Regions from separate parts of the Homo sapiens genome. Here all the other regions are reported to be linked to region 1. The links are microRNA targets in miRTarBase. Many come from high-throughput screens and were not tested one by one. Region 1 holds a microRNA gene; each other region holds the end of a gene's coding sequence.
What was found. Region 1 holds the annotated microRNA hsa-miR-548ay-3p (CAAAACCGCGAUUACUCUUGCA, at 2,446-2,467, opposite strand). A microRNA usually pairs through its seed, bases 2 to 8, with sites in the 3' UTR of a target mRNA and lowers its output. Matches are read on the target gene's strand: a 7mer-m8 pairs with bases 2 to 8, a 7mer-A1 pairs with bases 2 to 7 and ends in A, and an 8mer does both.

Region 1 (3,348 bases):
TTACATTCATTTTCAAATGAGAAAACTGAGGCCAAGAGGCTGAAATCATATCCAAGGTCAAACAGCCAGGAGCAGCTGGAATGCAGGCCTAAGCAGTCTGACTCGAAACCTTGCTGCTAAACGCTAACCCAGAAAACGTCAGCTTCTAACTCATCTCTCCATTGGAGTCTCAAAACCCATGGAAGAGAGAAGGGGTTTCTGCTGCCATCAGCTGCTACATCTTCTCCGTGGCCCCAAACCTCCCTTTCTTCTTCCAGTAACAAACAAAAGCTCCCATTCAAATGAATAGAGACAAGTAGATACTGCCCTGCAGGGGCCACCTACAACCAGCCAGAACTACCCTTCTGTCTCTGATTACATGCACTCTGAATGTCCTCCCAAGGCCAAGATGCCACCAATTCTGTCCAACAAGGAAGGCCACTGTATTTTCACCAGGGCTACAAGGATTCATTGCCCCATTATTCTTCAAGTCACTATCATCCCAAATTAGACACTACTGATGTCTAAAAGTTCCTTTGAAATTCATCCAAAATTAAGATGAGTTGATGACTAGAGAGATGGATAAAAGATTTGTGATAGGCCAGGCGCAGTGGCTCACGCCTGTAATTCCAGCACTTCGGGAGGCCGAGGCAGGTGGATCACCTGAAGTCAGGGGTTCGAAACCAGACTGACCAACATGGTGAAACCCCGTCTCTACTAAAAATACAAAAATTAGCCGGGCGTGGTGGCGTGTGCCTGTAATCCCAGCTACTCGGGAGGCTGAGGCAGGAGAATCGCTCAAACCCGGGAGGTGGAGGTGGCAGTGAGCTGAGATCGCGCTACGGCACTCCGGTCTGGGCAACAGAGTGAGACTCCGTCTCAAAAAAAAAAAAAAGCAGGCCGGTCGCGGTAGCTCACGCCTGTAATCCCAACACTCTGGGAGGCCGAGGGGGACGGATCACGAGGTCAGGAAATCAAGACCATCCTGGCTAACACGGTGAAACTCCATCTCTACTAAAAATACAAAAAATTAGCCGGGCGTGGTGGCGGGCGCCTGTAGTCCCAGCTACTCGGGAGGCTGAGGCAGGAGAATGGCGTGAACCTGGGAGGCGGAGCTTGCAGTGAGCCGAGATCACACCATTGCACTCCAGCCTGGGCGACAGACCGAGACTCCGTCTCAAAAAAAAAAATCATTGTTAAAAAAACAACAACAACAAGGATCTCTAATAAAGCAACTGCAGTAACATATTAATGGTAATATTTAGGTGAAGTATACGGGTGTCCACTGTACAATTATTTCAGCATTTCTGTATGTTTGAACATTTTCAAAATAAAGTATTGGGAGGAAGTTACAAAGAAACAAGGATACTTTGAGACAAGAGAGAAGATGAACAGACTTCGTCAACCCTCTTGGTTTGTTTAGGGCACACTTATGCAATTCTCTAGGGGTCTCTGCTTCTCTTTGCATTTTTAGAAGAAGACACAAATTTAGCCTGTGATTCATAAACTCCAACATGGCGAAGAATCATCTGTGAGATTAATTAAAAAGGAAGATTCTTGGAGATCTAGCCCCAAAGATTCTGAATGTAGATGGGGCTTGGGAATATACTTTCGTAACAAGCTCTTCATGTGAATCTGGGAAGAAATCCATCCACATAGAGAAACACTGTTTTATAATGTGATAAAAGTGAAAGCCATTGTGTAGTAGACAGTAGACGTGCCATATTTTCTTTGCTCTGATTGATTTGGGGGTGCCTGGGATTTAGAGACTAATATTTCACCCAGGTAAAGAAATGGGCATCCCTTACATTTTCTTCATAAATTGAAAGACCAAATAAAAATGTTAGTGCTTCATGAGCAAATACTTGTATAGGAAACTCTTTTGATGGGCATATTCACACAGAAAACTGTCACCCTCATTAATGAATAAAACAACTTGCAATAGTCAAATGGTGGGACTCACTATGTTGAAATGAGAAATCTTACGTATGGTGAAAAAAATACGACAAAAAGAAGAAAGGAAGATACACTAAATTTAGGTTTTAAAGAATATTCACTGTTCTCCTTTAAAATTAGATATTTAATTTTTTAAAAAAAGAAAGAAAAACATTCACAAGAAGAGAGAGCGATTGGGGAACATAATTTGATGGGACTTCAGCCATTCAAAAAATAATGTGGTAGTGTTGGAGGCTGTTGCAAGACCTTGGTTCTTGTCTTCTTAGTTTAAAAGAATTTAAACAAGAGACATACAGCAAAAGAGATGCAGCATAATTTATTGCAAAAGAAAAAAAAATTTTGAAAGCTAAGTACAAAATAGACATCACACCCTGAGAGAGAGAGAGAATTCAGGGCAGGCTGCTCGTAAGGATGAGACAACATTGATTATTGCTGGAGGTTATTGCTAATCATGTATTATTTGCATGATTATTCATAAGGAGGTGGGAAGAAGTGTTACCGTTAGGTTCGTGCAAGAGTAATCGCGGTTTTGGCCATTACTTTAAATGCAAAAACCACAATTACTTTTGCACCAACCTAGTAGTAAGCATCTTCTGGTTGGTCCTCTGGCTGCACATGTGCAGTAGCTGTGCACCCATGTTCCTCCCTCAGGTGTCCCATTAGCATTGTAAATCTCCACCCAAGGGCATGTTTTTTGCTATTATAATGAGCAAAAGGTCAGTTTGAGGACAGGTAAAATCAAAGTGCTCATGCTCTCTATAGAAGAAATTTCCTACTGAAGATAGCTTTGCTCGACTGAGTTCAATCACAATTCAAATGCTGAGGCTTATTGTGTTGACTGTTGGGGTCACCATGGTTGCTGCGTCCTGAGGATATGGGCACTTCCTTGACTGCCTATCCTGCCTCAGTACTACTTTTTCAGTTCAGAGTTTAATTTTTTTCAGCAGTTCCTGCTAAACAATTTTTCACTGGCCCTCTTATCGGTATTAGCACAGTTAGGCAATACTGTGGATACAAAGTTAGATTATAGACGCTATCCTACAATGATACCACAGTAATGTCCACAAAGAACTATGTTACAAAATAGAAAGAGATATGTGTTATAGAAGAGATACAAATTAAATATGTTGCTAATTCGGAGCAGAGAGAAATAACTTTCAGTTTAAAGGATCACTACAGTGGAGCTTCAAGATGGGGTTAAACTATACTTCGGTTTGGACATGCAGATACAGGGCAGAAAGTATTCAGGCAGTAGGGTGGTATGAAGGAAGGCAAAGAAAGTGTGCATAGGCACAGTGAATGAAGGGAGCAGGAAAGGACAGAGTAGTTAAGGAATATAAGCTCGAGATCAAATTTTGGAAGGCTTTGAAAATCAAGCTAAGGAACTGGGCCTTTCCATTATTGTTGGGTAAT
Region 2 (3,000 bases), not on the chromosome of region 1:
GGATAAGACTTCTAGCATTTTTCTGTGAAAAGCCAGCAAAATTCGGGGTCATCTTAAATCCTTTCTGAAATTGACCCAGGTTTAATTGTTTTTAAGTCTGAAAAGATGTACTTTAAACAAGTAAAAGAAACAATAAAATATAATTTTTAATTTTTAAATGAAAAAGTAGCCAAATTTGTTCAAAACACAAAAAAGTAAACATTTTAAAAGAAAAAAAGGCCCAGAAAAGAAAAACACACAAAAAAGGAATTTTTCAAAAGACTGAAGCCATAAAACACAATTGATGTTTGTTATCTTTAGACAAAGGAAAGGGGGAAGAGCAGAATGTGATTTTACTTTGCAATGTGTACTTTCTATAGTGTTTGGATTGCTGAAAGTATTTCCATTCATTACTCCTACTTTTTAATATATTGGGCCTAGTATGGTGGCTCATTCCTGTAGTTCCAGTGCTTTAGGAGGCCTAGGTAAGACGATAGCTTGAGGCCAGGAGTTCAAGAGCAGCCTTGGCAATGTATTGAGAACCTGTATCTACAAAAAAAAAATTTTTTTTAATTAACTGGGTGGCTGGGCATGGTGGTTCATGCCTGTAATCCCAGCACCTTGGGAGGCCGAGGTGGGTGGATCACCTGAGGTCAGGAGTTTGAGACCAGCCTGGCCAACATGGTAAAACCCCATCTCTACTAAAAATACAAAATTAGCCAGGCTTGGTGGCACGTGCCGGTAATCCCAGCTACTCAGGAGGCCAAGGTAGGAGAATCGACTGAACCTGTGAGGCAGAGGTTGCAGTGAGCCGAGATTGTGCCATTGCACTCCAGCCTGGGTGACAAGAGCGAAACTCCGTCTCAAAAAACATTGCTGGGCATGGTGGCTCACGCCTGTTGTCCTACCTACTGCGAAGGCTGAGGTGGGAGGATTCCTTGAGCCCAGGAGTTCAAGGCTGCAGTGAGCTATTATTGAGCCACTGCACTCCAGCCAGGGACGGAGCAAGACCCTGTGTCTAAAATTTTAAAAAATAAAACAGAATACTGAAATAAAATAATAGGTTATAATTTTAAAAGAATTATTTTTAAAAACCATGAAAAATGAAAAAACCTTAAAGCAGAAACTATTTAATTCTAAAAATGTCTTAAGCAAAAAAGGGTGATTATCAAACATTCTTTCAAAATATTTATTTCAAGTAGAAATTGATATAATGTACTATATACAGGAAGACACCACATGTAAGATAAGTAAGTCAAAAAGTTTCAGGAATACACGTTTATCAAAATATTAAAAACTCAAAATAATTTTACATCAGATACTTTAATTAAAAATAGTGTTCATGGGTTAAGGGTAGGGTTAAAAAAATAAAAAATTAAAAAAGTAGTGTTCATCTATTAAAATACCAGGCCCCAAACAGTCACCAACTAAGAAGAGAGACGGTTCTACTCCCTATAAATTCATACACACAGGCCTCCTTATACAGTCATCACATACATTTTTATCTAATTGTCTCCTAAAAATCCCTATCTTTCTGTTACTCTTTTCTTTCTTTTTTTTTTTTTTTTTTTTTGAGACGGAGTTTCGCTCTTGTTGCCCAGGCTGGAATGCAATGGTGCGATCTCGACTCACGGCAACCTCCGCCTCCCGGGTTCTAGCCATTCTCCTGCCTCAGCCTCCCGAGTAGCTGGGATTACAGGCATGAGCCATCACGCCTGGCTAATTTTGTATTTTTAGTAGAGACAGAGTTTCTCCACGTTGGTCAGGCTGGTCCTTTTTGTTACTCTTATGGGAATTATTCGGCGGGTTAAAAAAATTTTTTTTTAATAAATACATTTTTTTTTGGCCGGGCTCAGTGGCTCACGCCTGTAATCCCAGCACTTTGGGAGGCCAAGGCGGGTGGATCACCTGAGGTCAGGAGTTCAAAGCCAGCCTGACCAACATGGTGAAACCGAGTCTCTACTAAAAATACAAAAAATTAGCCAGGCGTGGTAGCTCATGCCTGTAATCCCAGCTACTTGGGAGGCTGAGACAGGAGAATCACTTGAACCCAAGAAGTGGAGGTTGCAGTGAGCCGAGATTGTGTCACTGCACTCCAGCCTGGGAGACAAGAGCAAAACTCCGTCACAAAACCAAACCAAACCTTTTTTTCTTTTTTTTCCAAAATGCTACTAAGCAACTACATCTACCCTTGGATGATAGATTAAAATTGGAGTTTAATATCTGAATTATTTTTACAAAAGCAGAAATAGCTAAATAATGAGTCTCAGGTTAAGTAGGAGGTGGAGTGGGCGACTATCTAGGAAGAATTCATCACCTGATCAGTGAGTGACAATGCAGAAGGAGCTTTGAAAACTGGCTCTATGAGATAACAACTCTGTTGACATAGACCTTCTCTTTCTCCTAGAATCCTTTCTCAAAGGCATGCATGAGTGCACCAAAAACGAATTGCCAGGGGAAAGAAAAGTAAAAGCTGACTTTCTGTCATGAGTAGTGTGCAGGCCAGGGGCTGCCCGAGAAGCCTCTAGCCTCTGCACACTCAGCAGGGATGCGTAGTGTCCTGGCTCGGGTGTCCCCAAGAGAACGTGAGGGGCAGGTCCCAGAGCAGGGCCCAGGAGACAGAGACTGATTCATTTGGATGAGGAGCACTTGCCACCCCTTGAGGAGACACCTTGAGGGAGCGGACCCTCCCCCCAGTGGTCACCCCCTCCTGAGGATCGCTGCCCTTGGTTGATGCCCTGGTCTCTGCCCTTTCCCCCTGGGCCATTTTCCTGCCGACCTCCCACCTCCTGGGGCAGAAGATGGAGGGGTGGGGGTCCTTCCTCTGGCTCTTCAGCTTCGGAAGCAGACTCAGTAGACTCATCGTCGTAGAAGTCAATCGTGGCTTGCACTGGGAAACTGGCCAGTACTTGCTCCCCGGAACTCCGCAGGTATTCTTGACGCTTTGACATGGGTAAATAGACTCTAATATTTAAGAAACAAATATACCATTAATCAACCTGAACCTCGTCCTAAATTGCT
Region 3 (3,348 bases), not on the chromosome of region 1:
GTCAGCGACAAGGCTCCCAGCCCTGCCACCCTGCCAGCCACCTCCTCCTCCCTGCCCAGCCCAGCCACCCCATCCCATGGCTCTCCCAGTTCCCATGGGCCTCCAGCCACCCACCCTACCTCCCCCACTCCCCCTTCGACAGCCAGTGGGGCCACCACAGCTGCCAACGGGGGTAGCTTGAACTGCCTGCAGACACCATCCTCCACCAGCAGGGGGCGCAAGATGACTGTCAACGGCGCTCCCGTGCCCCCCTTAACTTGAGGCCAGGGACCCTCTCCCTTCTTCCAGCCAAGCCTCTCCACTCCTTCCACTTTTTCTGGGCCCTTTTTTCCACCTCTTCTACTTTCCCCAGCTCTTCCCACCTTGGGGGTGGGGGGCGGGTTTTATAAATAAATATATATATATATGTACATAGGAAAAACCAAATATACATACTTATTTTCTATGGACCAACCAGATTAATTTAAATGCCACAGGAAACAAACTTTATGTGTGTGTGTATGTGTGGAAAATGGTGTTCATTTTTTTTGGGGGGGGTCTTGTGTAATTTGCTGTTTTTGGGGGTGCCTGGAGATGAACTGGATGGGCCACTGGAGTCTCAATAAAGCTCTGCACCATCCTCGCTGTTTCCCAAGGCAGGTGGTGTGTTGGGGGCCCCTTCAGACCCAAAGCTTTAGGCATGATTCCAACTGGCTGCATATAGGAGTCAGTTAGAATCGTTTCTTTCTCTCCCCGTTTCTCTCCCCATCTTGGCTGCTGTCCTGCCTCTGACCAGTGGCCGCCCCCCACGTTGTTGAATGTCCAGAAATTGCTAAGAACAGTGCCTTTTACAAATGCAGTTTATCCCTGGTTCTGAGGAGCAAGTGCAGGGTGGAGGTGGCACCTGCATCACCTCCTCCTCTTGCAGTGGAAACTTTGTGCAAAGAATAGATAGTTCTGCCTCTTTTTTTTTTTTTCCTGTGTGTGTGGCCTTTGCATCATTTATCTTGTGGAAAAGAAGATTCAGGCCCTGAGAGGTCTCAGCTCTTGGAGGAGGGCTAAGGCTTTAGCATTGTGAAGCGCTGCACCCCCACCAACCTTACCCTCACCGGGGAACCCTCACTAGCAGGACTGGTGGTGGAGTCTCACCTGGGGCCTAGAGTGGAAGTGGGGGTGGGTTAACCTCACACAAGCACAGATCCCAGACTTTGCCAGAGGCAAACAGCCTTCCAATTGCCCCTCCACCCCCAGCTGAGGCCCGGTCACCTGGTCAGGACAGAGCAACTGCATCTAAAAGCACAAGAAGACAGAAACCTGTAAGCTCTGACCCCACCCCCACCCCTTGAGAGGTCAGCGGACCACCTCCTTAGGGACAGACCCTGGCAGGTCGCTGCCCACCGAGATTTCCTCAAGTGTGCATAGATCTGAGAGGAGTCGGGAGTCGAGACTCGAGATTCCATCATAGCGTAGGTGTGTGGGGTTGGGAGCCCCCTGATGGGCTTGTCTGTGTTTGCACCTTGTCCTGTGTCTGAGGTCCTGTGACTGTACCCTCCTTTGCCCTGGGACATCTGTATCTCTTGGCTTTGTAATAAATGCTGCATACTTTCTGGAGCCTGTAGTTCTTTGGGGTGGAGGGAAGAAGGGAAGGGTGCCTCTCATCTCTGGGTTTAGCCTGGCTTGGGGACCCCATACAGAATGAATCTGAACTGCCCTCTCCTGTGGCTGGTCAGGTGCCCCCAGCCCACAGAGAGGTTAAAATCTGGAGCAGGAGGCAGCACGTGGGCCTCATAGCAGTGACTGCAGGACTACCAGTCTGGTTGGGCAGGCTTGTTTTTGCCATCTTCCCCATCAGCAAACATTGAACCAGGGCCCACTCCCGCCTGCCCCAGACTGGAGACTTTTAGGTTATAAGGAATAATTCTTCCTTCATGAGCCAGCAGTGGGTACCAGAGTCTCTTGGGCTCAGCACCTGTTTCCTTTCCCACAGAAGGGGGTGCCTGTCAGAGGCCTGGAGCCAAGGCCACCTGTGGCTGGACAGCAGCAGCCCCCTCAGAGTGGGGAGCCCACTTCTGCCTTCTGCACGCGCTCACTCCTGTGGGTGCCATCGCAGTACGGGGGCCTCTGAGTGGCCTTGCAGGTACAGAGTGCCACCATGCGGGTCTCTTGGGCCTTGAACTTGAGTGGAGATAGGCCAGTGCGTTGGAAGAAGTGGGAGCCGTCACAGAAGGGCTGGTGGGGGAAAGACAGGAGTCAAAGACCTGACCCCACCTGCTGGGGCAGGGCAGGGCAGGCTGCAGGAGCTCAGGGGGAGTGGAGCACAGTGGTTAGGGTACAGGCTCCAGAGCAAGACTGCCAAGGCTCACTGAGTGACCTCTCTTATCTGTAATGTGGGGGTGATAAGAGTAGAGTTGTATGAGGAAATAAAATATGATCGTGATGCACTTTGCCTATAGTAAGTGTCTGGTAAGTATTTACAGAGTCTTTATAGCATTAGTCTCTGGGACACCCAGAGGGCCAGGACACTAATAGAGTGTGAGTGTGTGTGTGTGTGTGTGTGTGTGTGTGTCTCTGAGTCTCCACTGGATCATGAAATTCATTTACTTCCCATGTTCCTGGGTTAAAACTTCTTTGGGCTGGAGAGTACACTGTGGTAGCAATTTTGTTTGGCTCCAGGGAATAACTGGGCACGTGACAGGGAGTGAAGGTTACAAGGAGGAGGGGATGCCCCATAGCAAACTGGCTGGCTGGCACAGAAGTGTACTCCCCATCCCAGAAGCCGCTCAAGCAGAGACTGGGTAATGGAAACAGGCCCAGAAAGGTGACATGCCTTGCTAGCTGAAGGCAGAGCTGGTGCCAAGGCCTTTTTTTTTGACAGGGTCTCACTCTGTTGCCCAGGCTGGAGTGCAGTGATGCAAACACGGCTCACTGTAGCCTCAACCTCCTGGGGTCAAGCGGTCCTCCTTCCTCAGCCTCCAGTATGGCTGGGAACACAGGCCTGCCTCCATGCTAGTCTTTGGTGGGGGTAGAGGCATTTGTAGAAGCGGGGTCTCAACTTTGTTGCCCAGACTGTTCTTGAACTCCTGGACTCAAAAGAGCCTCCTGCCTTGGCCTCGCAAAGTGCTGGGATTACAGGTGAGCCACCTCGCCTGGCTGAACCAAGGCCTCTTGACATTGGAGTTAGGGTGGGATGGAAAGGAGATGAGAGAAGCGTGCAAATAGAAACCAGCAACTTGTCTTAGAGGGCTTGAGGTGCATGGACCTAAGTGGGACTCAAGGACCCTGGGCTGCTGACACCATGCCACATAGCTTGAAGGAATACCAGTCAGAGCTCTGCTCAGGAAGGAAAGGGGCCAGGGAGGCAAACAATAT

Region 2: miRTarBase lists RIPPLY3 as a target of hsa-miR-548ay-3p. The part of its 3' UTR that is shown has no 7-base or 8-base seed match.
Region 3: the mRNA of PCGF2 is a reported target of hsa-miR-548ay-3p. Seed matches in the 3' UTR shown: 7mer-A1 at 380-386.

The regions. Positions count from the first base shown.
Region 1 is chr3:32,503,860-32,507,207 of GRCh38, forward strand. MIR548AY (microRNA 548ay) reads right to left here and starts at 2,530; the gene lies at 2,424-2,530.
Region 2 is chr21:37,017,817-37,020,816 of GRCh38, reverse strand. It overlaps RIPPLY3 (ripply transcriptional repressor 3), which reads right to left. Exons shown (of 4, transcript NM_018962.3): 4 at 1,155-2,943. The coding sequence ends at 2,610. Among named protein-coding and RNA genes, the nearest start is that of RIPPLY3, 13 kb to the right of the region's middle.
Region 3 is chr17:38,732,136-38,735,483 of GRCh38, reverse strand. PCGF2 (polycomb group ring finger 2) reads left to right here. Exons shown (of 11, transcript NM_007144.3): 11 at 1-1,586. The coding sequence ends at 261. It overlaps CISD3 (CDGSH iron sulfur domain 3), which reads right to left. Exons shown (of 4, transcript NM_001136498.2): 4 at 1-2,208. The coding sequence ends at 2,029. Among named protein-coding and RNA genes, the nearest start is that of CISD3, 3.5 kb to the right of the region's middle. RefSeq lists an enhancer at 34-561.